2 separate regions of the Homo sapiens genome follow, and region 2 is linked to region 1. The links come from fine-mapping of genetic effects on gene expression. A gene starts in region 1. The other region holds a variant in brackets. All regions are shown on one strand. Distances are between the middles of the regions.

Evidence for each region. PIP is the estimated chance that this variant, and not a neighbour inherited with it, causes the effect. A credible set is the group of variants that fine-mapping cannot tell apart.
Region 2: its variant is the best candidate, but not a certain one, in a credible set for the expression of GADD45B in whole blood (INTERVAL, PIP 0.59).

The regions. Positions count from the first base shown.
Region 1 is chr19:2,474,939-2,477,682 of GRCh38, reverse strand. It overlaps GADD45B (growth arrest and DNA damage inducible beta), which reads right to left and starts at 1,556. Exons shown (of 4, transcript NM_015675.4): 1 at 1,281-1,556; 2 at 1,053-1,154; 3 at 432-654; 4 at 1-195. The coding sequence starts at 1,324. The coding sequence ends at 82. RefSeq lists enhancers at 166-235, 256-315, 386-545, 556-665, 307-896 and 3 more and a silencer at 2,296-2,405.
Region 2 is chr19:2,628,375-2,631,390 of GRCh38, reverse strand. The region is part of intron 2 of GNG7 (G protein subunit gamma 7); the gene reads left to right. MIR7850 (microRNA 7850) reads right to left here and starts at 676; the gene lies at 598-676. The variant C/T (reference allele first, on the strand shown) is at 1,477.

The DNA.
Region 1 (2,744 bases):
CTGGGGGGGAGGGGGTTCAAATATTTATTGTATTTTTTGTTTGTGGCAGCAACTCAACAGATTCTGCTGCTGGGAAGGGCCTCAGCGTTCCTGAAGAGAGATGTAGGGGACCCACTGGTTGTTGCCCCGGCTTTCTTCGCAGTAGCTGGCCACCTCCACCAAGCCGTGGCTCTTCCAGGCGTCCGTGTGAGGGTTCTGTAGGAGGGAAAAGAAGGGGTTTAGTGGAGCCTCCCTCTCCCGGGGCCCCTGTGTGGGGAAAACAGTCAGGCTCAAAATAGCTTCCTGGGTGAGGAGGCCCCAGCCCGGCTGCCCACGGGACATGCCAAACGTGGCTGAGCGCTGAGCTGTGCAGGACCAGTCAGCCCGACTTTGTTGACAAACACCGGCCCAGGTGCCCGGGCGTGGCGGGGCAGGGCAGAGGCCCGACTCACCGTGACCAGGAGACAATGCAGGTCTCGGGCCTCGGTGGTGCCCTGGGTCTCGGCCGGCTCTCCCAGGAGCTGCGCCAGGCGCTGCATGCCCGACACCCGCACGATGTTGATGTCGTTGTCACAGCAGAAGGACTGGATGAGCGTGAAGTGGATTTGCAGGGCGATGTCATCCTCCTCCTCCTCGTCAATGGCCAAGAGGCAGAGGACCACGCTGTCTGGGTCCCTGAGGGGGCCAAAGGGTAGGGATGGGTCAGCCGGGGACAGGGGAGGGGCCACCGTGCAGGGGGAGTTTGCAAAAAAGGAGCGTGCAAGAGCAAAAGAGAAACTGCAAGGGTGCAGGGGATTGCCTCTGCAAGCTGGTGACGGTGGGGGGAGGGGAGGGCACACGGTTCAAAGTATGGGGTAGGGGGAGACAGGCCCACGGCGGGAGGGGTGTTTGCAGACGATACATCAGGATACGGCAGCCCCCGATCCACAAAACGGCAGAGAAGCTCTGCATCCACAGCGGGGGGCACTTGGGGAAGTCCCAGCTCCATGCAAGACAAGCGTGCGGAAAGCGTCCAGAGCGGAGGGGAGGTCCCGTCCCACCCGCGCCCAGCCCGGGAAGGGGGTCTGACTCACACATTCATCAACTTGGCCGACTCGTACACCCCCACTGTGAGGCGATCCTGGCGCTGAGCGGCCACCAAAAGCTCCTCCACCGCGGCGGTCACCGTCTGCATCCTGAGACCAGGAAAGAGGGATCAGTGACGGGCGGACCACCGGGTGCTACGTTCCGCTCCCGGCCCGGCCCAACCCGACCCATCCCGTCCCGGCTGACCTCAGGCGGCGGCAGCCCCGGCTACTTACTTCTGCGCCGCGTTGTCGCACGCCACGAGCTCTTCCAGCGTCATGTTGCAATTATAATCCACAGTGGATGCGGCTCCACGGCAGTCCCCAGGGAGAAATTGCAAAATCCGAGCCAGAGAGCCCAAAACCTTCCCACAGAGCTAGAGCGCTCGTCCAAGACCTTCGGGAAGCAGCGAAATCCTTCCAGAAAAGGCGGAAAAATATATTGCAAAGTCCTTGGCGAGGATAATCCAGGAAGTTGCGGAAACCAACGGTAGTCCGACGCTTCGGCGATCTGAGCTGGGAGCCTCCGGCACCGACTTTTATAGACTTGAACATTGGGCGTGGCCTCAGTGGAGTCATTCGCCCCTCCTATTGGTGGAAAGACAAGGGCGAGTGCAGCTAGCTCTGCGGTTGGCCGACGGAGGGGAGGGGGAGGAGCGGCGTGCGGGGGCGCCCCACGTGGGGGCGAGAACCGGGAGGAGGGCGCGCGGGGGCCGGGTAGGTGACCGCGAATGCCAGAAAAGAAAAAAAAGCAGAAGTTTTTTTCTCCTGATTTCCCGGCAGCCGAGCCGCGGTTCGGGGCGCGCGCGGGATTTCCAGCGCGCGAGGCGGCCCGGACTTTCGGGGGGGCCTGGAATCCCCTCCCGATCCGCGGAGAGTCCCGGACCGCGCCTTTCCCAAGTTCTGCTGGGGGTGGAGGGGCTGCACCGGGAAGGGGCCCCGTTTGCAGCGTGATCTCGCCCAGGTGGTGGTGAGGGCCGGAGTCTCTCCTGGCTGCGACGACCCCAGCCCCTGGGTGATTTCGCTTCTCCCGGCCTCTCTGTTCCCGTCTGAGTAATGGGTCTGCAGCGCCGGCCTCGCTGGTTTGCAGAGCATGGCATAAAATACGGCTGACAGTAAGAGCCCAATACACATCAGCTGTCACCTGGTGGTCGCGGGAGGCCTCCTCGAGGGCCCCGAAAGTGGGAGGTTGCAAAGCCCGGGGCGCTCTGGAGAAGAAAGTGGGCGCCTCCTCGCCGACCCCGCGAGTATCAGGGTGGGGTGCGCGTGGGAGGTGCAGGTGGCGCGGCCCCGCCCCCGCCGGCTGCCTGGCGTTCCAGCCTTTGCCCGTGCGGAGGCCTCCAGGCCCTGGAGAAAGCCATTGTTGAGGGGAATGGTGCAGGCTCCGGCTGCACGCCGCCACCCAGGGCCCACGTGCAAGGATGACGGCTACTTTTATTTCTCACTCCGGGGTGGGCGCTGACCTGCATTGAGTGCGTGGTGCGGACCTGGTACCCCCCACCCCTCCGGATTCATGGATGATTTAATCCAAGACCTGGGAAGCAGGGGGGATGCTTATGTGCATTATGCAAAAGGGGAAACTGAGGCTTGGTGAGGCCATAGGCTAGTTCGTGTTGGAGCCACGCGTGTGCGCCAGGCACGGCCGCCTGCAGGACTCCGCCGCCCCGGGAAGGCTGTTCAGGAGCGAGGCTGGCAGGCCCC
Region 2 (3,016 bases), 150 kb before region 1:
TTCATCTCATAACCACTCGTGAGGAAAGAATGATCGTCACTGGACAGATAAGGATGCTGAGACCTAGCGAGGTTAAGTGGCTTCATGAGGTGACATAACCAGCAGTTTAGGGCTTGGGCTCCCAACTCTGCCACCTACTGGCTCTGTGACCCTGGGCCATCTCTGTGCTTTTCTGAACCTCAATGCCCTCGTCTGTGAAAGGGGGGAGAATAGGCAGTGCCTGCCTCTCAAGGGGTTAATGCATGTCAAGCTGTCTAATACTAAATGCACCATTCTTCCTCTGGTCTTCATGCCTGCTATGCCTCCTCAGCCCCACACAGTGCTGTTGAGACAATCAGATAATGTCATAGTCATTAGACCTTTTTGATGATATACTCAGACATACTCAGGAGGAAACTGCTGAGTTGCTTGGCTGATTGTGGAGGGACATGATGTCCAAACCCTTGTGTATGAATAAGTTTGAAAGCTGACCATAAAATCCCAGAATGCTCTAGTCTGCAGCACATAAAGAGTGTATTAGCTAGCTATGGCTGCGTAACAACTACCATGAATGCAGTAGCTTAGAGTGACACCCATTTATTATCTCATGGTTCCATAGGTCAGAAGTTTGGATGTAGTGTGGCTGGGTAAGACCCTGCACAGAGGACCCAGCCACACTATGTCCAAACTTCTGACCTCGGAGATGTGAGCCAGGGCTGCATTCTCATCCGAAGGTTTGTGTGGTGACGGATCCCCTTCCAAGCTCATTCCAGGCTCATTCAGAATTCAGTTCTTTGTGGTTGATAGACTGTTTCTGTTGCGTTGTTAGCTGTCAGGAGGGGGCAACTCTCAGCTCTTTGAGGCCACTCTCAGGCCACTTGGCCTTCTCCATAGGCCCCTCATGCTTCCAGGCTCTCATTTCAGGAAAGGCCCAATCCCTTTTAAAGGGTCACCTGATTAGACCAGGCCCACCTAGGATAATCGCCCTTTCAGTGAACTCAAGGTCAACTGATTTAGGACCTTATTTACCTCTTCAAAATCCCTTCTTTCCTGAAAAGCAACCTAATCAGGGGAGTGATATCTCATCATGTCCACGGGCCCTGCCCACACTCAAGGGGAGGGGGTTCTACAAGATATGTTCTCCAGGGAGATCTTAGACTCCTCTTGGTGGCAAAGGGAAGGGGGGGCCTGCGTTCGGCCTCAGCCAGGACCGAATCAGCAGGACCTTCACTCCCTTTTTCTGGCGTCCATCCCTTCCTCTTGCAGGAGTACTGCCAGGTCTTTGGGGAGAGGGTGGGGGTTATTGGGAGAAAGGAGGCATTTGGAAAGTAGGTGGCAGGCTGTGTCCCAGTTACACCTAAATGTGTCTCCACTTATTAAAAAAAAAAAACAACCTTTATTTTGAAATCATTACAGATTCAGAGGAAGTTGCAAAAATCACACAGAGCAAAAAACATCACATGTATCTTCACAGTTTCCCCCAGTGGTGACATCTTA[C/T]GTAACCATAGTACAAAACCAGGAAATGGACCCTGGCACCATGTATGTGCAAAGCTCTGTGCCCTTTCGCACACATGCAGACTCGGCTTCACCTTATTTATGGGTGTGCAGGAACATTAAGTGTCCATAAATGTGGACGGAGCTCCTCTTACTCGTGGGCATGGGGTCAGAGGGAGGCGGGAGTACAACCAAACAAAACCATCTAGACTTTGACCGTTGATGTGGGTGCCAGGTTCCAATCACCGTGTGCCCCCACACTGCGTTCAGGGCTACGCTCTTCTGTCTTCTCCCACTAGTCTGTGAGTCTGTGAGGTCTTGTCCACTACCTCTTTAGGCAGCCAGCCCTTCTGGTGGGCTTTGTCGTGGGGAGGGGGTGGCACTAGGTGTGTTCTGGGGCTCCTAGCACTAGAAGACTTGTTTCAAATCCAGAAGCACCTCCTATTCGTGTGGGCGCCCAGGCAACTTACCTGACCCGTCTGTGACTCTGTGTCCTTGGGGACCTCCTATTCTAAACACAAGAGCGTGGCCTGCTGTCACCGTCACCATCCTGGCATCTGCAGAAGAGCCACCAAGCGCTGCCTCCTGAGAATTTCTGGAAGGAGGAGATGACTGGTAGAGTGGAAAGTTATTGAAAGGGACATTTGGAGTTCTTTCCAAGGGACATAACCCATCTCCCAATATCCCCTATCCATTTGCTCAACCTTCAGAGAGACCTACTAAGATATCCAGTTGTTCACCTCAAGTCTTCAACTTTCCCCAAAGTTCTTTGCTGTTTTCTCTGTGCCTTGCACAGAGCCTGATGCATAGTACGTGCTCCTTGGGGGCCACTTTGTGTGTGTTTCCTACTAATGGCACCTACAGCAGCAATGGCCACCATGTCTTTTACAGCTACAGTCCTAGGCAGAATTCCAAGATGGCGCCCAAGACCCCCACCGCCTGGTGCCCACATCTTATCTAATCCCCTGCACTTGAGGATGGGCTGGACCTGCGAATACGATGGGGTGTCACTCCAGTGGTTAGGTTAATGCAGTTAGGTCGTGTGTTCGGTAAAGGGATTTTGCAGATGCGACGAAGATTCCTAGTCAGTTGACCTGAGCTCATCAAAAAGGAGACATCCTGGGTGGGCCTGACCTCATCAGGTGAGCCCATAAAAGAGACCAGAAGCACATCCCGAGGTGTCAAATTCAGAGAGACAGAAGGGAGAATGGTGGGTGCTAGGGGCTGGGGGAGGGAAGAGGGGAGCTGTTGTTCAGTGGATACAGTGTCTCAGTTTTACAAGATGGAAGGTTCTGGAGAGCCATTGCACAGCAGTGTGAGTATACTTAACATCACTGAACCGTACACATAAACGTGGTTAAGATGATCCGTCTTATGTTATATATATATATACACACACACACACACACCACAGTTGAAAGAAAGAGAGAAAGGGAAGGGGTTTCTTGCCTTAAAGAAAGCAAACAGCTATGTCGTGAGCTGCCTGTGGAGGGTCCATGTGGCAGACACCTGAGAGTAGCCTCTAGGGGCTCAGAGCACTCAC